Homo sapiens: one gene and its partners. The protein of the gene in region 6 purifies or fractionates together with the protein of the main gene of each other region. This does not show direct contact. Each region holds a gene or a part of one and is shown on either strand. Other genes may lie near its edges. The genes, in order: SH3RF1, DCAF4, IARS2, BCL7B, CCDC88A, WDR62 and ASPM.

Region 1 (4,444 bases), on a different chromosome or scaffold from region 6:
ACGGACCTCCAGCTAAAGCAAAACTAGATTTTATCTCTTTCCTCCCTTTCCCTCGGATTTTCCTTTTCCCTGCCCAGCCAGCAGTAACAGAATAATTTCTCTCCTTCAGTCACGCAAAAGAGAAATATAAATAAATAAATAAGGACTGGAGCAATAGTGATAATAAATGAAGGAAACTGGGACGGGTGGGGGATCAGGGTTGCCAAAGAGATCTGCATCAGGCTACTTTTCACACACAGGAAACCAACATAACTGAGTTCATGTCTGTATTTTATGTAGCTCTACAGCCAAACACTACATCCACTTTATAATCTTTTCGGTATCTTTTCAGTAACTTTGGTTCTCATCATCCCAAATAGAAATGAAATTAAATATACAGCTAAGGATCCCTAGAGAGGTTGGTACTCCACTCACTTATTCACTCATTTATTCAACAAACCTCTTGTGAGTGTGTACTCTGTGCCAGACACTACAAAGGGCTCTGAAAAGTCAAAGATGGACCAAACTCAGCCCCCTCACCAGCCCCATTCCCACAACCACTCTGCATGGAGCTTAGGTCCCTATGGCTCCGCATCTTTGAGCTGAAGAAATGAAGCCCAGAGAAACCCCACAGCCAGCCCATGGCAGTGTTGGAACCAGAGGCCACAACTTCTGACCTCCAAACCACACTCTTCCCCATACATCAAGCTAAGGAGAGTCTGCTTTCCTGGTCCACTGTCATTGTAAAGGAGCTTTATTTGTCCTCTTTTTGTCAAAACAAAATAGGAAGCAAGGACAGTGAGGAAAGAATAACCTCTGCCAGCTGCAACTGAGAAAAGATTCCCCTGCTAAAAGCAACATGAGGTCCCAGGGAAAATGTTTGTCACTTAAGTCAACTGCAGGTAAGGGAAGGAAGCATTTGGGATCAGAAATTGGACAAGTTATTTAAAGTCTTTCAGCCACCCCTCCTACATCCATGAAATAAGAATAATAATGTATAGTGAGCCGTAAACACTCCAACTGCACTCCAACCTGGGCAGAAGTGAGACCATCTCAAAAAAAAAAAAAAGAATGCATAATAGCTTCTTATAGATCAATGTGAGTAGATACGGAAGCTATCCAAGTTTTATCATTAAATTAAAAACCACAAGTTGCAGAACTGCATATACAATGTGATTCCATTTCTATTCAATTTTTTGTCTGAAAGAAAACACAAAAAAACCTTGTGACAGTGGTTACCCCTAGAGATTAGGAACAAAGGAGTAGAGATATTGGAAGCCTTGATTTTCTCCTTTACATCATCTTCTACTATTACATTTCTTACCATAAGCATGTATTATTTTTAATTCTTAAAACAAAGAAAAATACTATGAGTATTTTTCTTACACTGAGTATTTTTTAAACAGAAAGAAAAATGCTATGAGAAAAATACTATGAAGAAAAATTCTATGAGTAAAAATACTATGAGAAAAATACTATGAAAAATTAAATGAATGGTACACATAATTAGTACACTTTTCTATGTGTATATTATACATCAATAAAGAGTTTTTTCAAAAACTGGAGTAGGTCTATGTGCTTAAACATGAAGAGATTTCATAGATATAGTAAATGAATTAGCAAATCATTGAATCTCCAGAGCATGAAATTCTAGTTCTGCAAAAAATCAAGAAACTATATGCATACACATATAAATGTATATGAAAAGATCTGCAAGTATATACACACTTAATAACATATTCTTCTATATGGTTGAATTTTTTTTTACAACCAGAATGCTTTTACATACATTTTGAAATCTACATTCTTTCTCATTTTAAAAATGATAACACTTAGGCTGGGTGCCGCAGCTCACGCCTGTAATCCCAGCACTTTGGGAGGCTAAGGTGGGTGGATCACTTGAGGTCAGGAGTTGGAGACCAGCCTGGCCAACATGGTGAAAACCCACCTCTACTAAAAGTACAAAAATTAGCCAGGCATGGCGGTAGGCGCCTGTAATCCCAGCTACTTGGGAGGCTGAGGTGGGAGAATCGCTTGAACCCAGGAGGCTGAGGTTGCAGTGAGCTGAGATCTCACCATCGCCCTCCAGCCTGGGTGACAGAGTGAGACTCTGTCTCAAAAAAATAAATAAATAAAATGATAACACTTGACCCCAGAAAGCTGTTGTGAGGTTTACATGATTATGGTTACATGACACTTTATGTGATATAAAAAAGAATCATTACTTTTTTAAAAAAATTATCAATTAGTATGCACCACAGACCCCCTTTCCCATACCTTCCTTCTACCCTGTTCAAGATCTCATCTCCGAGTCTCACCATCAAGCCTAGCTCAGGAATGAAGTAAAGGTCAGGGATGGGGCAGACATGAAGCCTGGAGTAAGGATCAAGGATGGATAAAATAAGAGGTCAAGCATGCAACAAACATGGTTTAGCCAAAACAAACAAACAAACAAAACCCACCTTTTCCGTTTTAATTCAATCATTCTGAAACACACAGAAACATTTCCCTCATCCAAACCACCACATTAAATGTCTTGCTTGGGTCCGGTATGAGTTAATACACATCCCCATCCCCATCTGTGCGAAGACAACAACTCCTTTGTCCGTCAGTGTTTGTAGTGAACCTTACACGCCAGGGGAGCATGTCCCAACCACTCTGGTCCACACTTGGTATTCTTTGACCATGCACTTAATCCAAGGACCACGAACTACAAAAAAGAACCCCATCATAGATAGAGACTTATTCTATATCTTATCCCACCCCCTGATGCTTCACTATCTGCTGCCTTACTTGTTGTTTCTTGTGTGTTACCTCCCCCAAATGTAAACTTTTTCAACAGAAACATGCATTAATGTCATCTTTGACCTAGTATAGATTATTGAACATAACTGGACCTGAAAGCTCTCTACAGGTGCTTGTTCATAGATGGATGTCAAAGATGTCCCACGGCACAGTTCACAGCTGGCAGTTGCTTTCCACACCAAACCTGGAGCAACTCAGTTGTCCTAACTTTCTCCCACTACTTCCTTCAATTCTTTCTGCCAATGCCATTCCTTGGAATAAAGCCTAGAATGCCTTACTAGGGTGCTACTTAGCCCTGGAAAGCACCAAGTAAGGATCTGTATCTGGTTTGTCCATCATTACCTATCCCTTGAGTAATGCCTTAGGTACTACTGAGTCCTGGAAAGCACTCTCTCCAGACTCCAGCTACAGATCAATCCAATTTGTCAGAGATAAGAAAGTAGTAGTTTTCCCCTCTCAATATTTCCTTCATTTCCTCCAGAACTTTCTGTGCATCTGGTATACTGTCACATAAACTTCAACTTCCTTATAACATGCCTGTCTATTTTAAGAAATTATGCCAGGCAATGTGGGTAGTTGAGGGAGTAGGGAGGGGCTGAACAACTTCTCAAAGGTATTCCATGACAGAACACAGAAGGCTGGACCACTGCCAGTTTCTGGGGAAACCAGGACTGAAGGGATTGGCAGTGGACCGAGAGGCCACTCAAGGGGCTGACCTTTAGGAGTATGTCTACAGTCAGAGTACAAGTTGGCTAGGGCTACTACATCCAAGGGCACAGACTGGGTGGCTTAAACAACAAAAATGTATTTCCTCACAGTTCTGGAGGCTGGAAGTCCAAGATCAAGGTGTCAGTGGGGTTGGCTTCCTTTGAAGGCAACTCTCCTTGGTTGGTAAGTGGCATCTTCTCCATGTGTCTTCACATGGTCTTCCCTATGTGTCTGCATCCTCATCTCCTCTTCTTATAAGAACACTGGTCTTACTGGATTAGGGCCCATGCATGTGACCTCATTTTACCTTAACCCCCTCTTTAAAGGTCCTATCCCCAAATATGGCCACATTGTGAGGTACTAGGAGTTAGAACTTCAACGTAGCAATGTTGGGGGACATAATTCAGCCCCTAACAGTCAGCAACAGGGAAAGAGGGAGAAAGGAGGTATGACTGTGCTATGGAGAAATGAAAGCAGACACAGCATTTACAGGGGAAAATAAATTTCATGTGTGTTCCCTCATATCTAGAATTCCCTACCTTTCTTTCCCGATCTCTCCATTCTTTGACACAAGCTCCAATCCCGTATCTGTTCTGAAGCCCTGCTAATCGTCTCAGTCCCAATGGTCCCTCTTTCTTATCCCAAATGCAGAGCACTTCCTATCTATCCTACCCATCTGACCCTTCACCCTACGTGGCCCTTGGGGCAGTTCTTGATGCCTTCTACATTATCAAATTTGAGGCCTCATCTTACACCATCCCTGTGGCTTGCCTAGTTCACACTTACCTTCTGTCAGTTCTTCCTAGGAGGCACATCCCTTCCTGTTTAGGTCAGCCCCTTTGAAATATTCTTCGCCTCTGCCCCTTCCCTGCCCAGCCCCCATTCCCTAATTAATATCATTTCACCCTTAAGATCTCAGCTCAGATGCCTCTTCCTCAGGAAGCTTTTGAAG
Region 2 (4,444 bases), on a different chromosome or scaffold from region 6:
CTAAGTGTCGCAGGGGCATCTAATTGGCACCCTTTTCAACAGTGGATGGACAGGTGCTGGCAGGAGCGGAGAGGACAGGGGGCGAAGGGGTGAGGAGCCCACCTTTTTCCGTCTGTCTTCTTCCTGGAGCAGCCGCAGTCTCTTGCTCTCCATCTCCTTCTGCCGGATGCTCTCTTTCGTCAGGGGGTTGCAGTTGTTATGTCCAGGGAGCAAGCGGAAGTAGCGTTTCTTTTCAGGGTCAAAGTAAAACCCAGGTAGCTCTTTAGACAAAAAAATTAAATGCACCAATTTCAACCACTGTGAACTGACCACCTGAGTTGGGCGCCCAGTGGCCTGTCCCCCCACCTCGTGGCTGCCTGTCTTTTCTGAGGGCGGGGATGAGCTGCCTTGTCAGGCAACATCCTGGACTGTGCTCAGTCCTGGGGGAGGCGGTTTGCCTCATGACCACCATTCCTGACGCACCCAGCTCCTTCCCTGAGTGTTTCAATTTGCTCCTGGAATTCCTTCCAAGCCAGGAACGGGTCTCAGCCTTCCCTGTGTGCAAGGGCCAGGATTCCCACCCCGCAAGTGGCCTTACCTGGCACAGAGGAGGTCCCAGCTGTGCCAGACGAGGTTGACGGAGACTCGTCATCACCGTGGCCGGAATCGTGAGCGGGCTGTGCTGCCCGGGAGTCAGACCTGTTGACACACAGCTGTGTTAACTTGCAGCCCAGGACTTGAGTTCCAGCCATTCTGACGGGGGCAGGGAGTCCATTCGGGCAGTTCTGCAGCCTTCACCTCTGATCTCTGACCTTTCTGATTACTTGAGAAGCACTGATCCCCTCTTGCAAATACAACAAAATAGGGCAAGGTTTTGGTTTTTCATTCTTTTTTCTTTCTTTAAAAGAGGACAGATGTCACAGTGATTCCCTCTTCTTATCTTCTCACTCGCGCATTTTGTGAGGTCTTGTGGAATTTTCCAGATTAAAAGGAAAAATAGAAATCTCTGCCAATAAGAATTTTACCAGCTGGGCTCATTTGTCAGCACAACAGCAGTTACAAGGCTAGGTGAATTTCATTCTTTATTGGATTCAGTAGCACAAAGAGTTTAAATTTTACTTGACTACACAATCTTACAGACAGAGAAACTGGGGTTTGGGGGACAGAGGTGATTAGTTCAGTAACACTGGGATAGAGCTGCGGCTAAAACACTTGATTTGTAAATCCACAAGTAGCTTCTGAGGGAATTATAGGCTGAAGGATGTAGTAAAGGTGTGTGCCACCACACCCAGATAATTTTTATATTTTTAGTAGAGACGGAGTTTCGCCGTGTTGGCCAGACTGGTCTCAAACTCCTGACCTCAAGTGATCCGGCTGCCTTGGTCTCCCAAAGTGCTGGGATTACAGGCGTCAGCCACCACACCCGGCCCAGCCAACTTTATTTTAAAAATACATTTAATGTAGCCTTGGCCTGGGTGGTGGTTCAAGTCTGTAATCCCAGCACTTTGGGAGGCTGAGGCAGAAGGATCACTTGAGCTCAGGAGTTTGAGACCAGCCTGAGCAACAGAGTGAGACCTCATCTCTTAAATAAATAAATAAATGTAATGTAGCCTGGTGTACAGGGTTTTAAAGTCTACACTAGCATACAGTAATGTCCTAAGCCTTTGTGTTCACTCATCACTCACTCACTGACTTCCAGTCCCGCAAGCTCTGTTCACAGGAGTGTCATACATAGGTATACCATTTAAAAAAAAATCTTATATACCCTATTTTTACTGTATCTTTTCTATGTTGAGATACACAAATACCACTGTGTACTGACTGCCTCTAGCATTCAGTAGTCACATGCTGTACAGGTTTGCAGCCTCGGAGCAATTGGCTACACCATATAGCTTAGGTGTGTGTGGCTGGCTGTACCATGTAGGTTTGTGTTACGTATGTGCTATGATGTTTGCATGACACGACTGCCTAACAACATATTCCTCAGAATGCATTCCTCCTTGTTAAGCGAAGCATGAGTGTATATCCTTGTCCGAGACTTAGGCTGAATTAATAAAATTTGGTTTCCACAAAGGTATTTGCATAAAAAGTCTACAAAATGGAGAAACGGTTTTCCAGTTGTTTCAGATAACGTCTACCTCTAGCTTTATGGCGAATGCTCTGGCCAGAGGTCGTGGTCACTTAGGAAAGAACAGAGAGTGGTCCTCTCTCCTCACTACTCAGTGAGGTGGGCTGACCCACCAAAGCGACATGCCCTGGGAGCACGTTAGGAAGGCAGGCTCTCCTCAAGACCCCTCAGACCTACAGAATCAGAACCTGCATTGGGACGAGCCCCCAGGTGATCTCCACACCTGTGATCGTGTGACATGCCATGTGTACAATGCCAGAAGCACACTGGGCAAAAGTGGCTCCCCAGAGCGGCACACTTGCCTGTCTTCAGAATCACGGAGTCTGAACCAAGGGTTCTGCTGGTGGCTTCTTCTCCCATGTCGTCTTCTACTCTGCCAGCGACTTTTATTCATTTCTGTTCCTAAAAGAGAAAAACAAAAAAATCCATACATCTCTGTGTGTGGGCATGGGCTTTTCTGTTTGCTTCTTGGCAGCTGCTTCATGCTCAGCACCAGCAAAAGGCTGGCCCACCCTGGGTTATCATCAGATTTGCCACAGCAAGCCTTACCTGGGAAGGGCTGCCTCCAGCACTCCCCCAACATCCTTCCCACTTCCTTCCTGTTACCCTTAGTCGACCACATAGTTTCCTACCCCACAGAAACGTTGCCAGGTCGGCCAGGCGCGGTGGCTCATGCCTGTAATCCCAGCACTTTGGGAGGCCGAGGCAGGCGGATCACGAGGTCAGGAGTTCGAGACCAGCCTGACCAACATGGTGAAACCCCATCTCTACTAAAAATACAAAAATTAGCCGGGAGTTGTAACGTGCACCTGTAATCCCAGCTACTCAGGAGGCTGAGTCAGGAGAATCGCTTGAACCCGGGAGGTGGAGTTTACAGTGAGCTGAGATTGTGCTCACTGTAAACTGCACTCTAGCCTGGGCGACAGAGCAAGACACCATCTCAAAAAAAAAAAAAAAAAAAAGAAAAGAAAAATTGCCAGGCATGAAACCCCTAACTTCACTCCCTTCTGCTCCACAAATACCTGCCTTTACTAATTGTCTTCTTCCTTGTCTTGGACAACAGGTATCACTGCTCCTTTTCAAGGGAGACCCATCCCACCTGGCTGTTGATTTCATTCCTTCCCAGGAACTGCAGACATCTATCTGTTCCCCCATATGTTAATGTCTCCTTCTCCTTATCTCAGCTTTTAAAAACATGCCCAGGTTTTTCATTTGTAAGTGTTCCATTTCTAATCCAAAAAAATGGGCATATTCTGAAAGAATGGTCTACATCTACGAATTCAATGTCTTCATCTCCCGATATTCCTCAACCCACTGCAGTTGAGCTTCCTCTCTCCTCGCCTTTCTACTAAAATGCTCTTGCTATTGATTACCTACTTGCCAAAGTGAGTGGTCTCTTTTTAGCCCTTATTCCTGCAACATGTGGCACCAGGAGGCTACATTCTTCCTTTGGCTTCTGTAATATCTTTCTCTTGGTTTTCTTCTTGCTAAATAAATCCTTTGCTCATTTCTCCTGGGTCACACACCCTGTATGTGCTTTCCATTGTTCTGTCCTAGATCCTTTTCTTTTCAGACTTAACACCACCTCATCTACCAATGCAGATGCAGCTCCAACCCTAATATCGCTACTGAGCACCAAGTTCCTATGCTGCTTCGTGTCTATCTCCACAGACCCAACAGGTTCAAAAGTGAGTTCATGATTTCTCTCTAACCCCCGATCTGCTCTTTTGCCTGTCTATACCTCTCTTCTCTGAAAGCAATATCCCTGCCCCTGCAGCCCAAATGTGTGTGTATTTTTTTTTTTTTTTTGAGATGGAGTCTCGCTCTGTTGCCCAGGCTGGAGTGCAGTGGCGCCATCTCAGCTCACTGCAACCTCTGCCTCTCGGGTTCAAGCGATTCTCCTGCCTCAGCCTCCCGAGTAGCTGGGACTACAGGCACCTGCCACCACACCCAGCTAATTTTTGTATTTTTAGTAGAGATGGGGTTTCACCATGTTGGCCAGGCTGCTCAAGAACTCCTGGCTTCAAGTGATCTACCTGCCTCGTCCTCCCAAAGTGCTGGGATTACAGGCGTGGGCCACCAAGCCCGGCTCCAAAACTTTTATCTTATTCATTGTCCTAAACAATGGCTCCTGAACACCATGTGTGGGTTTCCCTATGGATCAGTTATCTTATACCCCAGCTAAAGAATACAGTTGTATTTATTAATAGTTAAGTTACAAGCTGAAAGGGACTGCGCACAGGAAGGGAAGCACGTGTGGCCAGTGTTAAGACTGGTAGGAAAATGGCTGCGTGCAGTAGCTCATGCCTGTAATCCCAGCACTTTTGGGAGGCTGAA
Region 3 (4,444 bases), on a different chromosome or scaffold from region 6:
GATCACTTGAGCCTAGGATCCAGAGGCTGCAGTGAGCCAAGATGGCACCACTGCACTCCAGCCTGGGCAACAGAGCAAGACCACGTCTCAAAACAAAATGAAGAACAACAACAACAAAAAGCTAATTTTAAACTTCCCTAGACTTCCATAATTATATTTCAAAGCAGTCACTACCTCAAAAGTCCCAAATTATAGCTCACAAAGAATTATTTTGGGCTAGGCACAGTGGCTTACGCCTTTAATCCCAGCACTTTGGCAGGCCAAGGCAGGCAGATCACTTGAGCCCAGGAATTCCAGACCAGTCTGGGCTACACAACAAGAATTCATCTCTGTAAAATATTTTTTCAAAATTAGCCGGGTGCAGTGGCATGTGCCTATAGTCCCAGCTACTTGGGTGGCCAGGGCAGGAGGATTGCTTGAGCCCGGGAGTTTGAGGCTGCAATGAGCTGACTGGACCACTGCATTCCAGCAGTGGGCAACAGCATGAGACCCTGTCTCTTTAAAAAATAAAATAAAATAAAATTCCTTTGATAGAAGAACTGCTTTCTGAATAATTTTCAGAACTTATTCAATCCTTTATTAAAATTATGTATCGAAAAATAAGTATATGCATTTCCTTTCTTGCTACTTTTATTAAAACAGATAAAAACAATTTTAAAAATTAATTTTGCATAAAATTTTACCAAGTAACTACTGGATATTGCCAGAAATTAGTTTTACCTGTTGTACATTTATCAATATTCATATTTTTCTATACTCCTATCATGCTTAATGTATATTCTCCTTTAGTGTAATCAATGTAAAATGTATTCTAGAAAGGTAGAGGCCATATCTGTTTCAATTCAAAATATGCAGTTCAGCAAAGTAGTAAATTCAAGTCAGCCCAATACTTTGATGACTATGTTGTCAGATATCTAAAAATCTTCACCTGAAAGTGTTGAAATAGTCTCAAATGTTGTTTCCAAAGTAGAAGCAACAGATGCTACTTTATCTGCCGCCAGTACGTAGAGGTCTCCAGACTTAGAACATTTCACAACAGCATACCTAACATAAAATTTTAGGAGAAATTACTAATAATGAAACAAGAAAAGCCACAGATATCATTTTAATTTTTAAATAATCATTTTAGAAAAAACTGACTTCAGGCCAGCGCGGTGGCTCATGTCTATAATCCCAGCACTTTGGGAGGCCAAGGCAGGTGGATCACCTGAGGTTGGGAGTTTGCAACCAGCCTCACCAACATAGAGAAACCCCATCTCTACTAAAAATACAAAATTAGCCTGGCGTGGTGGCGCATGCCTGTAATCCCATAATCCCAGCTACTCGGGAGGCTGAGGCAGGAAAATTGCTTGAACCCGGGAGGTGGAGGTTGTGGTGAGCCAAGATCATGCCACTGTACTCCAGCCTGGGCAACAAAAGGCAAAACTCGGTCTCCAAAAAAAAAAAGAAAAAAGAAAAAACTGACTTCAAGATCAAACTGTACTATTTTCAAAACACTTTGTAACTTATACTTCTATTTCATTTTCCCGAAAAGCTGGATAAGGTCATAAAAAGGATCACCTAAAGGTTAATAAAATCTATATGAACATAATAACTAAGTTATAATTCATTAAATTTTACAATAATAAACAGGATAAAATAAATTCAAAATAATGTTAATAATGGAATACATTCTATTTGTGTATAAAACAAAAAATGCAATAATATACCCACTTTGATTCAGGCATATAGCAAACAGCTTCATTGGCTGGAATCGTCCAAGGTTGTGTGGTCCAGACCAAAATACTAACAGGAGATGAACCATCTGTGAAAATACAATTGTAAATATGTTAGCAAATGGGATAATTCTATAACTTTGGTACACTCAAGCTATGAATAAATCTTACCTATAAGAGATGCCAATTTTGGAGAAGGCTTTAAGAGAGGAAATTTTACATATATTGAACGACTGACATGCTCAGGATTATATTCAAGTTCTGCTTCAGCCAATGCAGTCCTAAGGGTTAAAAATATTAAACATAAATACTTGGAAGCCTCACAAATTTCTCCCTTTTAATTACCGAAAAATGCATATATACCTAGATGACGGAGACCAAAACACAGGTTTGTAAGATCGATAAACCAAGCCCTATAAAAGACAAAAATATGATGTTAAAAGTAGAATCTTGTAACGCATACTAAAACCTACTCAAAGAGAAAAAATACTTCTTTACCTTATCATACATTTGGTAAAAAGTTCTCAACTGTTTGGCTTCATACTTCCCATCAAATGTATAGTAGCAATTATTCCAATCTGCCATTATTCCCCAACGAATAAATGCTGATTTCTGTTTCTCAATGGCTGCTTTAGCAAATGATCTAGCTAAAAAAAAGACGAAAAAAAGATTTTAAAAAACCAATGAATTCGAATTCTTAAACATGGTTTAGCATGTATCTCTCTAAATGCAAATGCTACAGACAGTTTAGAATGCAAATTTTTTTTGAGACACAGTCTCGCTGTCACCCAGGCTAGAGTGCAGTGGCGCGAGTGGCATGATCTCGGCTCACTGCAAGCCTCTGCCTCCCGGGTTCACGCCATTCTCCTGCCTCAGCCTCCTGAGTAGCTGGGACTACAGGCGCCCGCCACCACGCCCGGCTAATTTTTTTGTAGTTTTAGTAGAGACGGGGTTTCACTGTGTCAGCCAGGATGGTCTGGATCTCCTGACCTCGTGATCTACCCGCCTCAGCCTCCCAAAGTGCTGGGATTACAGGCGTGAGCCACGGCGCCCGAGCACAAAATTTTTTTTTTTTGAGATGGAGTCTTGCTCTGTTGCCCAGGTTGGCATGCAGTGGCGGATCTCAGCTCACTGTAACCTCTGCCACACAGGTTCAAGCAATTCTCGTGCCTCAGCCTCCCAAGTATCTGGGACTACAGGCGTGAGCCACCATACCTGGCTAATTATTTGGTATTTTTAGTAGATACGGGGTTTTGCCATGTTGGCCAGGCTGGTCTCAAACTCCTGACCTTAGGTGATCGATCCACCTCCCTCAGCCTCCCAAAGTGCTAGGATTACAGGCATGAGCCACTGTGCCCAGCCTATAAAAATTTTTTAATAGAAAAATAATTTGAAGGTCAACAGTGTTCAGAAGATACCTACAACAAATTCTAAAATTAACTGGAATTGCAAAAGTTAAAATTTTATTACTGTCTTCTGTATTTTCCAGACTTTATACAATGACCTCATATTTAGGACAAATAAACTGGAAAAATTATTCCTTATTGTTTCTTAATTTAAGAAAAGGTCAGATAACAATTTTCATTTCATTATACACAAAAAATTAATCAGAATATCAAATCTAAGCCAATGATAATAGGTTTCACAAGGAAGTAAAAAAATCTTCACAGTTACATCCAAATGTACAATAGTATAACATATAAGAAAAAGAGAATCCTCCCTTGGCCCAGTCGACTGAAGAAAAAGGATCAAATAAAAGATTAATGTAAAATATATGTATTTTAGAATTGAATTTTGGCTTAACACCTAAAATCAGTCAACAAGCCCCCTTGAGGAAAGCAGAAAAAAGAATTTACCAAAAAATAGTTTTTTAAAATATGAACATTAAGAAACTGAGAATGCAATCAGAAATGCTCACAAAGTCTTTCCTTCAATATCCAAACATAAGTTCTTACAAAAATCAATGAAATAAAATCTGAATTTTCTGTGACAGAAAGGCGTTTCCAATAGATCTTATTATAAGCAAACGAAACCCAAACAAAAGGTTCCTTTGGTAAAGTTCTGACTATTTCAAGGACCTGAGTGTTTACAAATATCATTTTAAAACAGAAATACAGATTATTTACCTTTCTTTCTAATTTCCATAGCTGAAAGATTCTGAGCTTCTCTACCAAGTTCTGATAATACTTTTATTTCAATGGGCAACCCATGACAATCCCAGCCGGGCACAAAATGTATTTTGGAGCCATTCATCATATGGAATCGATTGGCTATGTCTTTCAAAATCTGCAAAGATAAAATGATAATTATCATTCATACATAAAATATTTGGCCATGTATTTCAAAATCTGCAAAGATAAAATGATAATTAGCATTCATACATAAAATATTTGGCCTACAATTTATGTTCTTTTTTTTAAACTTAATACCATTTTTAAAACTGCAATTTGAAAGGAAACGTATAAATTAACTCATAAAAAAACTATTGACACAAATAGTCTAATATTATTTATATTGAGCTAAGAAATATCATCAAACCATTGCAGAACTTACAGTGTACTCAGAGAATGGAATATTGTGGTTAACTCTGTCATTGACAAACCCTTACTAAAACAGTAGACCTCTTCATTAGGTATAGTTCTAGAACCAATTTACCTTTTTAAATTCATTTTAGATACCAGAGGGCAGCAGAGCCTTTTAAAAAATATATTACTATAGTTGAATGGAGG
Region 4 (4,444 bases), on a different chromosome or scaffold from region 6:
AGGCAGAGGTTGTAGTGAGCTGAAATTGCACCATTGCACTCCAGCCTGGCGACAGAGCGAGAGTCCGTCTCAAAAAAACAAAAAAGCAAAAAACCCCAAATTAAAAAACCAAAGTTGAACCACAGAGAATACAAAGAGGTTCTGGCAAAATACTGTACATATTTTTTTTTTGTTTTTTTTTTGTTTGTTTGTTTGGTTTTTTTGAGATGGAGTCTCACTCTGTCGCCCAGGCTGGAGTGCAGTGGTGCGATCTCGGCTCACTGCAAGCTCCGCCTCCTGGGTTCACACCATTCTCCTGCCTCAGCCTCCCGAGTAGCTGGGACTACAGGCGCCCACCACCATGCCCGGCTAATTTTTTGTACTTTTAGTAGAGACGGGGTTTCACCATGTTAGCCAGGATGGTCTCGATCTCCTGACCTCGTGATCCGCCCGTCTCGGCCTCCCAAAGTGCTGGGATTACAGGCGTGAGCCACCACGCCCGGCCCACATATTTAAGTTTTGTTTAAACACAAAAATACACATATGAAACAATGCTATGTATTTTTAAAGAATATACAGGTATCCAAATACATCCAACAAAGATGAAGCACAAAGGTCTACACCAGAATTAGAAAGATGTATATACATATGATACACACAATACAGTGGGGGACTAATCGCATAAGAGCAAGTATCAGCAAACTTTTTCTTAAAGGGTCAGATGATAAATATTTTAGGTTTTACGGGCCATTTGGCCTTATGGCAACCACTCAATCTGCCACTGTAATTCAAAAGCACCACAGACAATAAGGAAATCAGTGGGCATACTTATGTGTTTGGTTTTTTTTGTTTGTTTGCTTATTTTCGAGATGGTGTGTCACACTGTTGCCCAGGCTGGAGTGCAGTGGCGGGATCTTGGCTCACTGCAACCTCTGCCTTACAGGTTCAAGCGATTCTCCTTGCCTCAGCCTCCTGAGTAGCTGGGATTACAGGTGCCTGCCAGCAGGCCTAGCTACTTTTTTTGTATTTTTAGTAGAGACAGGGGTTGCACTATGTTGGCCAGGCTGGTCTCGAACTCCCGACCTCAAGTGATCCGCCCACCTTGGCCTCCCAAAGTGCTGGGATTACAGGCGTGAGCCACCACGCCCAGCCAGTTATGTTCTAATAGAACTATACTGACAAACCTAAGGAATACGCCAGGGCTGTAGTTTGTCAAGCCCTGGAAAAGAGGCTTGGGTTAAGGGAAAGGAATAAAGTAGGAAAATAATAAAGAGAGGCCTTGCATGGACCAATAACAGGGTACCTTGAAGTATTTTCCACTCAATTCTGGGCAAATAAATTCCTTTAATTAAAAGGCAATTAGGCCGGGTGCAGTGGCTCACGCCTGTAATCCCAGCACTTTGGGAGGCTGAGGCAGGTGGGTCACGAGGTCAGGAGTTCAAGACCAGCCTGACCAACATGGTGAAACCCCGTCTCTACTAAAAATACAAAAATCAGCTGGGTGTGGTGGCAGATGCCTGTAACCCCAGCTACTTGGGAGGCTGAGGCAGAGAACTGCTTGAACCCAGGAGGTGGAGGTTGCAGTGAGCCAAGATCATGCCACTGCACTCCAGCCTGGGTGACACAGCGAGACTCCGTCCCAAAAAAAAAAAAAAAGAGGCAATCAAATAAAGAAATAAAGAAAATGGTATCTTTTGATTTTCTTCCACACTTACCTCCTTGCTGTCTGTCACAGGAACCCACTTAAATATCCTCAGGGACGTGTCACCCACAGTCACCCACTTCTTCTCCCTAAAAGAAAGACACTTCTTAGAACGGATAAAACAATGCAATGTGTTTTCTGTTCATCACTTGTGTTTTTCTACTACTCAGCAGATCATTCCTTCAATCTGGAATCCTTCTGAACTTCCTCTTGGTGGGGTATGGTAGCTCACACCTGAAATCCCAGCACTTTGAGAGGCTGAGGCAGGAGGATCACTCAAGCCTAGGAGGTTGAGAACAGCCTGGGCAATTTAGCGAGACCTCATCTCTAAAAAAAAAATACAGGCCAGGCGCAGCGGCTCACGCCTGTAAACCCAACACTTTGGGAGACTGAGGTGGGCAGATCGCTTGAGGTCAGGAGTTCGAGACCATCCCGGCCAACATGGTGAAACTCTGTCGCTACAAAAAAAAAACAAAAAGTAGCTGGGCGTGGTGGCGTGTGCCTGTAATCCCAGCTACTCCGGAGGCTAAGGTGGGAGGATCCCTTGAGCCCAGGTGGCAGAGGTTGCAGTAAACTGAGATCACGCCACCACACTCCAGCCTGGGCAACAGAGACCCTGTCTCAAAAGAAAGAAAGAAAAAAAAAAGGATGTGGGACATAAGGCTGGAAGGTAGCACACACAGCACCATATTCTTTTTTACTTGCATGCGAGTTACTTTGAGTGCTTTTCTCTTTACCAAATATATGAGTTCTATTACTACATTCCTTTTCTTTGTTTGTTTTAGTGAGACAGGGTCTCGTTCTGCCTCCCAGGCTGGAGTGAAGTGGCACAATCATAACTCACTGCAGCCTTGACCTCCTGGGCTCAAGCAATCCTTCCACCTCAGCCTCCTGAGTAGCTGGGACTAGAGGCGCACACCACCACGCCCAGCCAAATTTTTATTTTTTGTAGAGATGGTTGGGGTGGTGGGGTGGGGGTGGGGGGTCTCTCTTTGTTGCCCGCGCTGGTCTTGAACTCTTGGTCTCAAGCAGTCTGCCCACCTTGGCCTCCCAAAATGCTGGGATTACAGGCATGAGCCACCACACCTGGCCTCCTGTGTCCATTTAAAGACCCTTCCAAGGGGCAAACAATCTCAGGAGAGACACCTGCTGCTGGGGGGTATGGCCTGGTGGGTGTGAAATGTTAGGAACCTTTCCCTTTCTGGGTTACTAAGACTGCATAAAGAAAAAGAAAACTAGGCCAGGCGCGCTGGCTCACACCTGTAATCCCAGCACTTTGGGAGGCCAAAGTGGGCGGATCACGAGGTCAAGAGATCGAGACCATCCTAGCTAATACGGTGAAACCCTGTCTCTACTAAAAATACAAAAAATTAGCTGGGTGTGGTGGCACGCACCTGTAGTCCCAGCTACTCAGGAGGCTGAGGCAGGAGAATTGCTTGAACCTGAGAGGCAGAGGTTGCAGTGAGCCGAGATTGCGCCAATGCACTCCAGCCTGGGTGACAGAGCGAGATTCCGTCTCAAAAAAAAAAAGAAAGAAAACTAGTCTAAAGAAATTTTTAAATTTCAACTTTGAAGTTCAAAGCTTTGTAGAAATCCTGTCTCTTGCTGTGTTCCAAAGGGGTAAAAATGGCAGAGTTTATCAGTCCACTACGCTCACGAAATAAGCAAAGGGATAAGCCTTGCACAAGGTCACTCTCTAAATGACTAAGGACCCCCAACTATCTACACCAGATTAGAATGCCACTGTTCTGAGCTTACCCACAGAGTGCCTTCGAGGTCTGCAAACAAATGTGTGGAGGAGATAGAACAAAGGAGACTTTTTTTTTTTTTTTTTTTGAGATAGGGTCTCCGTCACCCAGGCTGGAGTGCAGTGGCGTGATCACCACTCCTTGCGGCCTCAAAATCCCAGGCTCAGGTGAATCTCCCATCTCAGCCTCCCAAGTAGCTGGGACTACAGGCCACCACGCCCAGTTAATTTTTTGTATTTTTAGTAAGGATAGGGTTTCACCATGTTGCCCAGGTTGATCTTGAACTCCTGGGCTCAAGCGATCCTCTTGCCTCAGCCTCTCGAAGTGCTGGGATTACAGGTGTGAGCCACCGTGCCCAGCCTCTCCTTCATTCCAAGAAGGTTATTCCCTAAGCGTGCAGGCAGAGAACAAATTTGCTTATTTTAAGGTCCACCAATACCTTAAGAGGTACTTGCTGTCAGTAGGAACAAGGGTCAAATGCAGGGAACTGCTTTGTCACAGATCTGAGCCAACTTCTCAAAGAGTCAAGTCCAAATATGAAGTCACGAAAAAGCAAAAAAAAAGCAACTGCTGTTGTAGTTGTTGATGCTGTTCAGCAAATGATGACATAATAGGGCCGGGCACGGTGGCTCACACCTGCAACCCCAGCACTTTAGAAGGCTGAGGTGGGTGGATCACTTGAGCCCAGGAGTTCGAGACCAGCCTGGGCAATATGGTGAAATCCTGTCCTCACTAAAAATACAAAAATTAGCCGGGCATGGTGGCGCACACCTGTAGTCCCGACTACTCAGGAGGCTGAGGCGGAAGAACTGCTTGAACCCCAGAGGCGGACACTGCAGTGAGCCAAGACCACGCCACTGCACTCCAGCCTGGGTGACAGGCAAGACTGGGTCTCAAAAAAAAAAAAAAAAAACAGATGACATACTGGGAGTGTAAAGAGACTGTGATGTAACAGAAGGAGCGAATTAAAGTCTTAGAAAATAACTAAAATTAATTCCTGAACAGACCACTCCAT
Region 5 (4,444 bases), on a different chromosome or scaffold from region 6:
CTATTCCCATATTAATTGATCTTTGAATGAACTAGCCCTTCATCCCTCTCACTGAGTATTACATTTAGATCCTGATGAGAGAGCTCTGCCCTGAGTCCAACTCCGGCCCTCCTCGGCCCACATGCTTCCACTGGGAGAGGAGTCCATGTAAACAGGGGGATGTGCCTATATACCTCCCTTTTTTTTTTTTTTTTTTTTTTCAGACAGAGTCTCACTGTCACCCAAGCCGGAGTGCAGTGGCGCAATCTCGGCTCACTGCAACCTCCGCCTCCCAGCTTCAAGTGATTCTCCTGCCTCAGCCTCCCGAGTAGCTGGGATTACAGGGGCCCGCCAACATGCCCTGCTAATTTTTGTATTTTTATTAGAGACGGGGTTTCACCATATTGGCCAGGCTGATCTTGAACTCCTGACCTCAAGTGATCCACCCGCCTCAGCCTCCCAAAGTGCTGGGATTACAGGTGTGAGCCCCCAAGTCTGGCCTACCTCCCCACTTTTAAATGACACTCCAGGTGCCCAGAACTTTGCAATTTCTTGCCCAAGCACTTCTAACTCAATTTGAAGGCCCACACAGGCCTCTTTCCTAGGTCTGTCCTTAGAAAAGACTGTGCTACACTTGTGTACACCCTTGGGCCAAGGAGTACTTGTTTGGGGATGGGAGTACAAGAGCTTAGACCTTGTGCGTGCATGCAAGGTGTTCACAGCATGTACAGGAGACCTCTTTGTGGTGCTAGAAAGAGCCAGAGATGACGGGAGGAGGTTGGGCTTAACCACACTCTGCTGCAAAACTGTGAATTTATGAATTCTAAATTCCACAGATTTTAAATTTGAAACTTTCAAGTCATTATGAAGGTATATTTATCAAGAGAAAAGACTAGAATATAGATAATGATTTGTTGGCCTGGTTTATAAGCTTTAAATATTTAGGCCTATTGTGGTAAATGGATGCTTATCCTGGATCTTACAAATGTTAGGGGCAGATCTCCTCTCACTCAGAGTGAAGTTGATGGGTTTTATCCACCTATTTTTATTAATTATTAAAGTAGGCCAGGCACACTGGCTCACGCCTCTAATCTCTGCACTTTGGGAGGCTGAGGTGGTGGATAGCTTGAACCCAGGAGATTGGAACCAGAATGGGCAACACAGCAAAACTCTGCCTTTACAAAAAACAAAAAACAAAAAAAAGAAAAGAAAAATTAGCTGGGCATGGTAGTAGTCCTAGCTACTCAGGAGGCTGAGGTGAGAGGATCGTTTGAGCCCAGGAGGCAGAGGTTGCAGTGAACCAAGATCTCGCCACTGCATTCCAGTCTCGGCAAGAGAGAGAGGCCTTGTCTCAAAAAAAAAAAAAAATTATTAAACTAGTAAAATAGATCTAAGAAGGCATAAAAATAGAATCAGGAATAAAGAGAACATTTAAAGTAATTTTCCAGTTTCAATAACTAGCTAAATATTAAATGATTGATTCAGGATTTAAACTTTCAAGCCCATGTTTTTGTTTTTGCCCTCCCACCACTCTGACTCTCCAAAAGCAGCCAGTTTACTAATTAATAAATTAAGTATTATACAGATGTCCCAGTACCAAGTATAATCTCAAATACTATTTCTGAATATTGAAAACTTAATGCCTAGAATGGTATCAAACTGTTTCATGGATCCTAAAAGAAAGTCAGCTGGTGTCCTTTTGAAAGAACTGGTCTTCCTTTCCATTTATCCTGTGAGAACTAGTCTCCCATAATATATATTAAGAGAAAATTTTCAGTTAAAAAATTTAAAAATACTCTCAGGTATAACAACTAGTTCACCTGTTCTTCTCTAGGTTCTCATCATTTCTGTAGTTTAACTACATATGAATCATATTGAGAATGAGGCAATCACAATGGACTTTTCTTGAAGACAGTCCAATACAAAGCTGTGGACAAAAAAATCTCAACATGGCCCAGGCACGGTGGCTCATGCCTGTAATCCCAGCATGAGATTTTGGGAGGCTCAGGTGGACAGATCACTTGAGGTCAGGAGTTCGAAACCAGCCTGGCCAAAATGGTGAAATCCCGTCTCTACTAAAAACACAAAACTTCACCAGGCACGGTGGTGGGCACCTTGTAATCCCAACTACTCAGGAGGCTGAGACAGGAGAATTGGTTGAACCTGGGAGAAGGAGGTTGCAGTGAGCCGAGATCACGCCACTGTACTCCAGCCTAGACGACAGAGTAAGACTCCGTCTCAAAAAAAAAAAAAAAAAAAAAAAACTCAACATATTGGACAGGAAAGTTATTGGAAACCAAACTGAAAGCACTGTATATTCTAATACTATAAAAAACCATGGACCATGAAATCTTGCTCCTATCACCTTGCCTCAAAGGAGATATAACATCGGTGGGAAAAATATCCAATAAAGGTAATTAAAACAAATACGGGGAAAGAGAGAGAACAAACAAAAAGGAGAAACAGAAGACAAACTAAAAAATAAACTAAATTCTACAGTACTAAAACTAGAAGGTATTCTCAAAATTTTGAAAATTAATAAAATTGCAGCTATCTTCACTTATTCCTTCAACATTTACTTACAACTTACGACATGCCAACTTCTATGCTAGGTGCTAGTGATACATGCTAAGTACTAGGTTAGGTGCTAGTAATATGTGAGACAAAACATCTAGCCCCTAAACAGTAATACTGCAAAGCAATAGCTACGCAGGTGAAGGTACTTCCGAATCATAAGGAAGAAAACAACTCTGCCTGGGGACTTCACAAGGTATTAAAGGAAGAGCAGGAATTGGTTAGTCAAAGAAAAGGGGAAGGATAGTCTAGAGCAGGAGTCTCTAACCCCTGGGCCATGGATTGGGTCCATGGCTTGTTAGGAAAGCCACACAGCAGATCAGTGGTGGGCGGGCAAGCATTACTGCCTGAGCTCTGCCTCCTGTCAGATCAACAACAGCATTAGATTCTCACAGGACCACAAACCCTATTGTGAACTGTAGATGCGAGGGATCTAGGTTGCACTCTCCTCATAAGAATCTAATGGCTGATGATCTGAGGTAGAACAGTTTCATCCTGAAACCATCTCCCCTCAGCCTTGCTCCATGTAAAAATCGTCTTCCATGAAACCAGTCCTTGCTGCCAAAAAGGTTGGGGACCGCTGGTCTTGAAGAAAATAATTCTAATGATAATAATATAAATAAAACAATAAAGAGCTAACATTTATTGGACACTTTCTATATGTTAAGCATTGTACATACATTATTCTATTTGATTCTCATAACAATCCTGTGACTTTTTATCCCACTTACAAATTAAGTAACTTACTAAAGATCATACAGCTATATAGAGGTGACACTAACAGAGATCATACAAAACTAAGCTGTCGGCCAGGCGCAGTGGCTCATGCCTGTAATGCCAGCCACTTTGGGAAGCTGAGGTGGGAGGATCACTTGAACCCAGGAATTCAAGACCAGCCTGGGCAAAAAAGTGAGACCCGGTCTCTATAAAAAAAATTTTAAAAAATTAGCCAGGTGCAGTAGCACATGCCTGCAGTCCCAGCTGCTTGGGAAGCTGAGGTGGGAGGATTGCTTCAGCCTAGGAGTTTGAGGTTGCAGTGGGTTGCGATTGTGCCACTGCAGTCCAGCCTGGGTGACAGAGTGAGATCCTGTCTCAAAAACAAACAAACAAACAAAAAAACTAAGCTGTGAACTATCATGATTTACTTGAGGAGCCATAAGTAGGTAGATATAGCATAGCACAGGATAATAATAATGACAGCAACCAGCACTGGGGATATAGTGGGTCAACAAAACAGAAAATAGACTTATCTGTCCCTGCCTTAGTAGATAATCCTTCCCCATCAGGAAGGGAAACATTATCTCCCATCTTATAAATGTAGGAACTGTAATTTGGAGATATTAGGCTCACATACCAATAAGTAGCACAGCTAGAACTGAACCCAAGTCTATGTCTATCTGACATAAGGCTCAAATTCATTCCACTTTACTACACATGGCTGTATTATTCAATCATTCAACAGAAATATATCAAGAATGTACTGTGTGTCAAACACTGTCCTAAGAATACAGAGACAAAAGATAGAGTCCCTGGCTTCAGGAAACTCACAGCCTAGTCAATAGAGTCAAGCAAAGAGTCAGGCTGGTTTGTGCCTATAATCCCAGAACTTTGGGAGGCTGAGGTGGGTGGATCGCTTGAGACCAGCCTGGGCAACACAGTGAAACTCCATCTCTACAAAAAATACAAAAATTAGTCAAGCATGGTAGCGCGTGCCTGTGGTCCTAGGTACTTGGGAGGCTAAGGTGGGAGGATAGCTTGAGCCCGGGAGGTGAAGGCTGCAGTGAGCGGTGATCATGCCCCTGCACTCCAGCCCGGGCAACAGAACAAGACCGTCTCAAAAAACAAAAACAAAAACAAAAAAAAAAAACAAGCAAACAAACAAACAAAAAAG
Region 6 (4,444 bases):
AAATTATTTCAATATAAAAAGTCTCAAAATTGCCAATGCCCAAGTTTCATCCCAGATCAACTGATTTGGCTTTCTCTTGCGTGGCGGTGGGGGGGCGGTGAGGCACAGGGACCAGGTGATTCTGATATGCAGTTGGAGTGAAAATCCCCACACTGGCCACACCACCTCCTAATGCACACCCACTGGTGGCCAAGGGCGGACACCTGCATACCATCTACTATAGATCCAGGCCACCCACTCCACTGCCTACAGGGATTAGGGAGGCAACACAGGTGTGAGGAACTGGCCACAACGGGCCTGACAAATTTCACTAAGCTCAGCCCCTCACTGCCACAGGGGAATTTGGGCCCCAGAGGCCAGAGAATTTCTCACTTCTCCAAACAAAAGGGACATTTGGATTTTTGTGTTAAAAAACTTGAAATGTTGTCCACTTATCCAACCTTTAAAACATACTATATTGGGCAAGTGTGTGTGACTCTGGTTTGTAGCTGCTGCCTTATGAATGCTCTCCCAGTTGGAGGCAGCTATTTTATTTTCAGAGGAGACCAAGGCTCTGAAAGAAGTGTCTCACCTGAGATTCCACAGTGAATAGACGCTTGAGCCAGGAATGGAACCCAGCTCTGCCCTTATCACCAGTAACAGAACCCACAGTTAGGAGCAAAAGGTCCAAAAAGCCACTTTCAAGAGGGAATGCACTTCTGTCAGATAACAAGAACCTGCCGTAGCTTAAGGACCGTACCTTAGGGACCATAAGGGCAGGAGAAAACCCACTCCTTATCCATCCACCTGGAGAACTGGGCCAAAGGAGCTGAGCCTGAGCTATGCCAAGGAGGGACATGGTGTGCCTTCCAAAGGTCACAGCCCTATTGGGACCACATCCCCAGGGTAGCAGTGATCAGTTAGCCCCAAGGCAGAGGAGCGGGTCCTTCCCCAGTAAACTTATAGCTGAAGGGATCTTTCTAAAACCCAAATCATGTTAAGTCTTTCTCTTAGAAAATAGCCATCAATATGCCAGATACTGCTCTTTGGTGCTAGGGACACAGAAATGAACTCAGAGAAAGTCCCTGCTCTCAAGAGTGCTCACACTGAGGGAGACCCACAGTGAATACCATCAATGAGGAAACTGGACAGCATATCAGAGATGGGAGCAAATTTTGTGGAGAAAAGCAAAGCAGGGAATAGAGCTGCTGGAGGGCTGGGGGTGAAAAGCACATTCCTGGCCTGTGGTGCCCTCCTGTGGCTGCTCTCTGCACTCAGCATGCTATGCAGACCCTCTACAAGGCTGCAAGGCCTACGGGATGTGGCTTCTGCCTGGTCCAGCCTCATCTTCCCTGCTCCTTTCTCCAGGCACCCAGATCCCTGGCTGCTTCTAAAGCGCCGGAGATTCTTAACCACTGCAGGGCCTTTGCCCTTCCTGTGCCCCCTGCCTGAAGCGCTCTCCCTACAGCTTCTTATGGGTCACCCTCTCGCTTCCTTCAGGTCTCAGAGTCAAGGCAGCGTTCCCTGAGCCTTCTGATAAGGCTTTCCTCCTATTCTCTGCCCACAAACCTGCCCGAAGACATCCTCCATCATTTCCTCCATAGCACTGATCATGATCAGCCCGTAATTTGCTGACTAGTTTACAGTCTGTCTCGCTCTAGCCAGCAGAGATTCTCGTCTCCTCTGGTCACTGCTGTGTCCCCAGCACACGGAACAGCACCCAGCACAGGCGAATGCTGCTGAGCCAACATGTAAGTGAATGAGTGAGCACCTACCCATGAGTATCTCCAGGCTGTGTAGGGGAGGGGAGGCGTGCCAAGCCCCTGGTTCCACCCCTGCCCCGGGCCCAGGCCTCAGCCTACCTGGCGGTGTTAAAGATGTGCTGCTGCTTGTTCTCCTTGGGGTCCAAAATCACCACCACACAGCTGGGAAGAAAGAGGAAAATGTGCCTCAACTGTGGGGAGTGTTGGGGTCCTGGGATGATTCTATTCCCACCAGAAAAGCCCACAAATAAACAAGCTCCCTCGGTTCTCTCTGGTCTCCTCCTCCTCCCCCTCCTCCAGGTGTTTACGCTGAGAATTCTAGGGCACTTTAACATTGCTATGTTCTTAAATAGAAACCAACACTTCCTCTGAGGTAATGTCTGTCAGGCCCTAGGCTAATTAAGACCTTAAGCTGGCTATAATCCCAGCACTTTGGGAGTATGGGGCAGGAGGGATCACTTGAGCTCAGGAGTTTTAGACCAGCCTGGGCGACAGAGTGAGATCTCATCTCCACTAAAAAAAATTAGCTGGCTGTGGTGGCATGTGCCTGTAGTCCCAGCTACATGGGAGGTGAAGATGGGAGGATCGCTTGAGCACAGGAGGTTGGGGCTGTAGTGAGCTGTTATTCACACTATTGCATTCTAGCCTGGGCAACACAGCCAGACTCTGTCTCAAAAAAGCAAAACAAAACAAAAAGAGAGAAAGAGGGATGTAATTGTTTTAAATCCTCACAACTGCCAGGTCAGGTCACGACTATTTAGGCCCATTTATAGATAAGGAAACAAACCCAGAGAGGGGACGTCCTTAGCACAGTGCCAGGCTACATGAGTATTTATGGAATGAACAGCTGTAGCATCTTCTTCAGTCTTCTCAACTATGCAAGCAGAGGGGGTCACCAGCTCTGTTTTACAGAGGCAGAGGAAGAGGCTCAGAGAGCAGCATACATGGCAGAGCTGGGACACAAATCCAGGTTACCTGACACCACAGCGTGGACTTTAATCACCTGTCTTTCCCAGAATCGCTGTCACCTCCCCCCTGTAGTCATAATAAAGGCTTTCATTGCACTCACTACATGCCAGGAACTGTTCTAGACAGAGAGGGGGCTATGGAATCCTCTCCACAGCTCTCAGAGGCAGGCCCCATTCTCCACATTCTACAGGTGAAAAATATGAGGCTCAGAGCGATTTACGGATGGCTTCAGGTTCCAAGCTCCAAATTCCCTAGCAATGATTAGACGTCGAGGCCCTTATCTGCTTACCCTGCCAGGTAGGCCACATGGCCTGTGCCGGGGTCACAGGTTAGGCCACTGCTGTTCTGGGCTGTGATGCCAAGCACCTTCTCGAGTGACACCTGCAAAGAAAAAGCCCAAGTCAGAGGCACCCACCCTAGCCAGCACCACATGGTGCAGCCGCCTTGGCCACCCATTCAGGTCCTGCTACATTCAACACCCACACTGAGCTTCTGTGGCCACGCCATCCACCAGCAGCTAACACTTGTTCTCTCAACATTCCTTTGACAAATACAACGCTAGGTGAAAAGCACAGAGTGGTGAGGAAGAGACAAATCCCTGCCCTCGGGGGGCTCACATTCTACTGGTGATGGGTATGTAGAACATAGAAAAGGAGCAGAACAAATATGTGAAATAGATGCCAAGTAATGATGGGTGCAAGAGAGAAGAAAGCAGATAAGGAGGTTAGGAGCACAGGGGAAGGGGGCGAATGCCGCGGTGAGAAGGTGACCTGTGAATAAGTTTCTAAGTACTTTTTTTTGTTTGTTTTTGAGATGGAGTCTTGCTCTGTCACCCAGGCTGGAGTCAGTGGTGAGATCTTGGCTCATTGCAACCTCCGCCTTCCAGGTTCAAGCAATTCTCCTGCCTCAGCCTCCTGAGTAGCTAGGATTACAGGCACATGCCACCATGTCCGGCTAATTTTTGTATTTTTAGTAGAGATGGGGTTTCACCATGTTGGCCAGGCTGGCCTCGAACTCCTGACCTCAGGTGATACACCCGCCTCGGCCTCCCAAAGTGCTAGGATTACAGGCATGAGCCACTGTGCCCGGCCTCTTAGTACTTTTATATGTATAAAAGACTTGAATCCTCCCAACAAGCCACGAAGAAGGCTCTATTATCACCCCTGTTTTACAGGTAAGAAGTCTGAGGCCCAAGATCCTACATCTGCAAGTGGCAATGTTGATATACAAACCCAGGCAGTCTGGCTCCAAAGCTAGCACTTTGGGCTGTACAGGAGAGACACAGTAGTGACCAAAGGTAGACAGTTTCCCCACATCAGATTCACAGTCCAGAAATTTGAGCGGTTTCAACGAGTAAAAAACCACATGAACAGTAATATTTAAAATTTAAACAAGGCTGGGTGTGGTGGCTCAGTCAAGAGTTTGAGACCATCCTGGCCAAGATGGCGAAACCCTGTCTCTACTAAAAATACAAAAAAATTAGTCAGGTGTGGTGGCCCATGCCTATAATCCCAGGCACTCAGGAGGCTGAGGCAGTAAAATCGCTTGAACCCAGGAGGCGGAGGTTGCAGTGAGCTGAGATGGCACCATTGCACTCCATCCTGGGCGACAGAGTGAGACTCTGTCTCAAAAAAAAAAAGGAACAAAACAGTTGAGGAAACAGAGGCCAAGAGGGGTTACCCATCCAGGAAGGGGTAGTGCCAGGATTCCAACACAAACAACCAAGCCATGGC
Region 7 (4,444 bases), on a different chromosome or scaffold from region 6:
GTATTTTATTGAAGAGTTTTGCATCTGTGTAATGAGTTGGGAAGTTTCAGCGTTCTTTTATGTTTTCTGGAAGAGATTGTTGACATGTTATTATTTTGTCTTTAATTATTTTATACAACTCACCAGTGATACTATCTTAGAGTGGAAATTTCTATTTTATTTTATTTTTTTCCTCTTTTTTTACTTGACATAATTGTGCATATTCATAAAGCACATAGTGATGTTTTGATACATATACTGTATAGCGATCACATTAGGACAATTAGCATATTCATCATCTCAAACATTCTTCTCTGGACTTTTTTTTTTTTTTTTTTTTTTGGAGACAGGGTCTTGCTCTGTCGCCCAGGCTAGAGTACAGTGGTGCAAACACAGCTCACTGCAGCCTCAATCTCCTAGGCTCAAGCCATCATCCCACCTCAGCCTCCCAAGTAGCTGAGACTACAGGCATGTACCACCACACTCAACTAATTTTTGTATTTTTTGTGGAGATAGGGTCTCACTAAATTCCCCAGGCTGGTCTCGAACTCCTGGGCTCTAGTCATCCTCCTGCCTTGGCCTCCTAAAGTGCTAGGAATACAGGTGTGAGCTACTACACCTTGCCAGATTCTGTTTTTTAAATTTGTATAGGACTATTTATCTTTGATGAGTTTTGGCAGTTTCTAATTTTCGAAGAATTGGTCCATTTCATCCAAGTTGTTGAATTTACCATATGTATATACAAAGTATATCTTTAATATCCTTTTGATGCCTGGGTAGTCTGTAGTGATATTCCCTTTTTCATTCCTGATATTGATAATTTGTATCTTCTCTTTTCTTCTTTGTCAGTCTTGCTAGAGTTTTAACTCTCTTGATCTTTTCAGTGGACAACCCTTTGGCTTCATTGGTCTCTGCTCAGTCTTTATTATTTCTTGTTTTGATTAATTTTGCTTTTCTGTCTATAGTTTCTTTAAGTATAATCTTGAGTAACTGATTTGAGTCCTTCCACTTTTAATGTAACACATTAATGGTATAAATTTTCTTCTAAATACAGGTTTAGCCACATACTACAAATTTTGATATGGTATTTTTTTTTCATTCAGTTCAAATAGTTTTTAATTTCTCTTGAGGCTTTTTCTATGATTTAAAGTTTCAGAATATGTTATTTACTTTCTAAATGTTTGGAGATTTTCCTATTATTTTTCTGTTAGTGACTTTTTCTTCAATTCCATTATGACCAGAGCACATACTGTGATTTCAATTCTTTCCTATTTGATAACCTTTAGTTTATGATCCACAATATGGTCTATCATGGTCAGAGGTTGGTATATCTGCAGGCCAAATTTGGCCTACCATGTGTTTTTATAAATAGAGTTTTTTAGAATATGGTCACAACTATTTGTTTATGTATTATTTGGGAGCTGCTTTTGTACTACAATAGCATAATTGACTTGTTGCAACAGAATTGGCCCACAAAGCTGAGATATTTGCCATCTTGGCTGTCATCTCCATTCTGCTATTGTGCCATACCAGTGAATTTTTATTTTGGTTAGTGTGTTTTTCGGTTCTACTATTCTCACTTGGTTCTTACTCATATCTTTGATGTCTTTACTGAGACTTTTTATCTTTCCATTAGTTTCAACTTGTTGTAGCATTTTTACTTTATCTGCTCTAAAGTCGTTGTCAGTTAATTCCAATTCCAGTATCTTTGTCATCTCATCATTGGTGTCTATTGATTATCTTTTCTTGTGAGAGTTGAAATTTTTCTGTTATGTTGTATGTCAAATAATTTTTAATTGCATTCTGGAAATTTAATGTTATGTTATCAGACTCTATGTTTTGTTTAAATCCTATGGAGAATGTTGATATTTTAGTTTTAGCAGCTAATTCACTTGATTGGGTTCAGGCCACCTGTTCTCATCAGCCTTCCATGAGCGTAGCTTCAGTGACAGTTCCTTTTTGAAAGCCTTTACAGTGAGTGATATTTGTATCATATCAGTTTCATTATGTAACACCCAGTAGCCAGTCTGGGATCTAGATTGTGATCTGTATCTTATTCAATTCTTAAAGTCTATAGCCTACTGTGGTCTAGATTCACATTGTGCACAACTTGGTGGTGAACCTAGAAATTCATAAACAACATTATCAGATTGCTTCCCTGAGCTCCCCAGTCTCTACCATCTCCCTGGTACCCTCTAGTTCCTCAGGGCTGCCTTGTTTCATCATCTGACCAGAAAACTGAAGATTGAGTTACACTGCTCTACTGCATTCTTTCCATGACTGCGCCCATATCTCAAGCAGAGAAACTCTTTTGTATGAGGAAAAACAAAGTATGGCACAGGTTATAGTTACTGGGAGAGATGAAGAATTGGGCTGTTAATGCACTCAACCTGCTGCAGATATCTGTGGTAGAGTAGAAAGAACATTTGATTTTGGTGTAATAATGTAGATCCTAAGATCAATTATTTTTATTTGCTGTGGGACTTTGCAAAAAGTTTTGTAACATTAGTGTTCCTTTCTTTAAGTGAAGAAACAATGCCAACTTAATGTATTTTTGTGAGAATTAAGTGAGAAAATTGTATGTAATGTGTTCCTTAGTAAAAGCTATTTATTTTTAAGAATTGTATGACAATGGTGAAAAAATTGCTATTGTAATAAGCAAAACTGTTAGGAGAGGAGATGATCATATCTTCCATGTTATATATCAACATTGATTAACATTTCAGTAATGGAGTAGTAATAGTAATGTAGAAAAAGTGATTATTAAAGTATAAAACAATCTGTACACACTGATTCTTCAATTTCTTAGTTTGAGGATTTTACATAGAAATATCTGTTGGGGGTGGGTGCTCAAAAGAAAAATAATATCTGAATTTCTGAGTACTATTACTGCTTTACTTTGCCCTAATTTAAAGCAAGTTAATACTTTATGTAGAGTTTATTGTTTTCAAAATACTTTTGTACAAATAAGTTTGACTGTTGTTGGATAAATATTTTGACAACTTGTGCATCTCTTCTTGGTAAGATAAAATGTATACAATCATTTCCTGTCAGGTTGAAGAGTATGAACAAAACCTCAGGTAACATTTAGTAGAGGAAGAAGACAATAAAACTTACAGGAAAAGGGTCAGGAAAAGGGATGTGCATGTTCTCCTTAAGCTTCCTCACCCATGGATAGGTATGCTTAGGCCAGTGATAGCTGCAAGCAAACTCGATACTGCTATAGGAGAGCGAGGTACCCAGTCCCTATATTACTCTACTTATATGCGAGAAAAAGTAAGATGTAGTAGAGAACAACCTCTCCATGCCACCCCCAATCTCAGCAATGTTTGGAGTGTTTGTACAAAGGAATGGTCTTATTGCTAAAACATCTAGAACTTGACTACCATTAGCCTGGGACCATTTTAGATACCAGCAACTGGAATTAGCTTGAGAGTTTGTAGCTCTTTTTGTTGAGCCAACATACAGTTGGATTAGCCATTGTAACCATGGCTTTTCAAAAGACAAAAGTTTTGTCATTTCTCAAGTCTTTCTAGAATTCTACTTTTAAGCCATGTATTTATAGTTCCTAAATTTGGGAAAAGGAAGTAATTTTATTCTTAATGAAAATAATGACTCTGAGAGTGATCTGGTTTATTTATTCCTAAATTCCTATATTTATATTATCAGGCCTGTAATGTGATAATGCAGGATCCTTCACATAAACAGTTTCTAGTCATTATAAGGTAGCTTAGAAACATTGAAGTAAGGGGACCATATAAGGCCCAGAAATAAACTCATAGGAAATTACTTAGAATCAATAGATAGCAAAGAATATTACTATAGTTTTATTTTGACTCTTTTGCTTGTAATATAACATAAACTTGCTTATGTTTCTTATGATTCTGGCATACAAATGCAGTATTTAAATATAATGAAGATTTGGATGGATTTCTGAATTGGCTACAGGTATATCAATGTAAAACCTAAACTAAAAACAAAAGAGACAAATATCTCACAAAAATAATTAGTTTTCTAATTCAATGTGTTTATTTTTAAGCAGAATGTTAGAAAAATTAGTATTTTGAAAAGTGTTAAATATAGAAAGCTATGCCTATTTTACTTTGTGTCCTTTCTTACCTTTTCCAGGGATATTGGAGAAGATATTCCACTAGACAAAGATTTCTGAAATTGAAATATTATTCAATCATCCTGCAATCTAGGATAAGAATGATAATTGCTGTTACATCTTATAAACGATATCTTTGGGCTACAGTTACAATTCAGAGGCATTGGCGTGCTTATTTAAGAAGAAAACAAGATCAACAAAGATATGAAATGCTAAAATCATCAACTCTTATAATCCAATCTATGTTCAGAAAATGGAAGCAACGTAAAATGCAATCACAAGTAAAAGCTACAGTAATATTGCAAAGAGCTTTTAGAGAATGGCATTTAAGAAAACAAGCTAAAGAAGAAAATTCTG

The links.
Region 1: the proteins of WDR62 (region 6) and SH3RF1 purify together in Homo sapiens (affinity purification with western blotting; one study listed by BioGRID). This does not show direct contact.
Region 2: the proteins of WDR62 (region 6) and DCAF4 purify together in Homo sapiens (co-immunoprecipitation; one large-scale study listed by IntAct). This does not show direct contact.
Region 3: the proteins of WDR62 (region 6) and IARS2 purify together in Homo sapiens (affinity purification with mass spectrometry; one large-scale study listed by BioGRID and IntAct). This does not show direct contact.
Region 4: the proteins of WDR62 (region 6) and BCL7B purify together in Homo sapiens (affinity purification with mass spectrometry; one large-scale study listed by BioGRID and IntAct). This does not show direct contact.
Region 5: the proteins of WDR62 (region 6) and CCDC88A purify together in Homo sapiens (affinity purification with mass spectrometry; one large-scale study listed by BioGRID and IntAct). This does not show direct contact.
Region 7: the proteins of WDR62 (region 6) and ASPM purify together in Homo sapiens (pull-down; one study listed by IntAct). This does not show direct contact.

What each region holds. Positions count from the first base shown.
Region 1 is NC_000004.12:169,260,571-169,265,014, forward strand, and holds part of SH3RF1 (E3 ubiquitin-protein ligase SH3RF1), read right to left. Parts: intron 1-4,444. UniProt on the Homo sapiens protein: Has E3 ubiquitin-protein ligase activity. In the absence of an external substrate, it can catalyze self-ubiquitination. Stimulates ubiquitination of potassium channel KCNJ1, enhancing it's dynamin-dependent and clathrin-independent endocytosis.
Region 2 is NC_000014.9:72,936,036-72,940,479, reverse strand, and holds part of DCAF4 (DDB1- and CUL4-associated factor 4), read right to left. Parts: intron 2,531-4,444; exon of another isoform or gene 2,510-2,530; coding exon of another isoform or gene 2,502-2,509; coding exon 2,410-2,501; intron 679-2,409; coding exon 578-678; intron 261-577; coding exon 103-260; intron 1-102. UniProt on the Homo sapiens protein: May function as a substrate receptor for CUL4-DDB1 E3 ubiquitin-protein ligase complex.
Region 3 is NC_000001.11:220,100,047-220,104,490, reverse strand, and holds part of IARS2 (isoleucine--tRNA ligase, mitochondrial precursor), read right to left. Parts: intron 4,002-4,444; coding exon 3,842-4,001; intron 2,363-3,841; coding exon 2,214-2,362; intron 2,129-2,213; coding exon 2,079-2,128; intron 1,997-2,078; coding exon 1,887-1,996; intron 1,805-1,886; coding exon 1,714-1,804; intron 1,045-1,713; coding exon 929-1,044; intron 1-928.
Region 4 is NC_000007.14:73,550,473-73,554,916, forward strand, and holds part of BCL7B (B-cell CLL/lymphoma 7 protein family member B), read right to left. Parts: intron 3,198-4,444; coding exon of another isoform or gene 3,076-3,197; intron 1,771-3,075; coding exon 1,695-1,770; intron 1-1,694. UniProt on the Homo sapiens protein: Positive regulator of apoptosis. Plays a role in the Wnt signaling pathway, negatively regulating the expression of Wnt signaling components CTNNB1 and HMGA1.
Region 5 is NC_000002.12:55,409,561-55,414,004, forward strand, and holds part of CCDC88A (girdin), read right to left. Parts: intron 1-4,444. UniProt on the Homo sapiens protein: Bifunctional modulator of guanine nucleotide-binding proteins (G proteins). Acts as a non-receptor guanine nucleotide exchange factor which binds to and activates guanine nucleotide-binding protein G(i) alpha subunits.
Region 6 is NC_000019.10:36,057,428-36,061,871, reverse strand, and holds part of WDR62 (WD repeat-containing protein 62), read right to left. Parts: intron 3,093-4,444; coding exon 3,001-3,092; intron 1,905-3,000; coding exon 1,842-1,904; intron 1-1,841. UniProt on the Homo sapiens protein: Required for cerebral cortical development. Plays a role in neuronal proliferation and migration.
Region 7 is NC_000001.11:197,104,849-197,109,292, reverse strand, and holds part of ASPM (abnormal spindle-like microcephaly-associated protein), read left to right. Parts: intron 1-4,107; coding exon 4,108-4,444. UniProt on the Homo sapiens protein: Involved in mitotic spindle regulation and coordination of mitotic processes.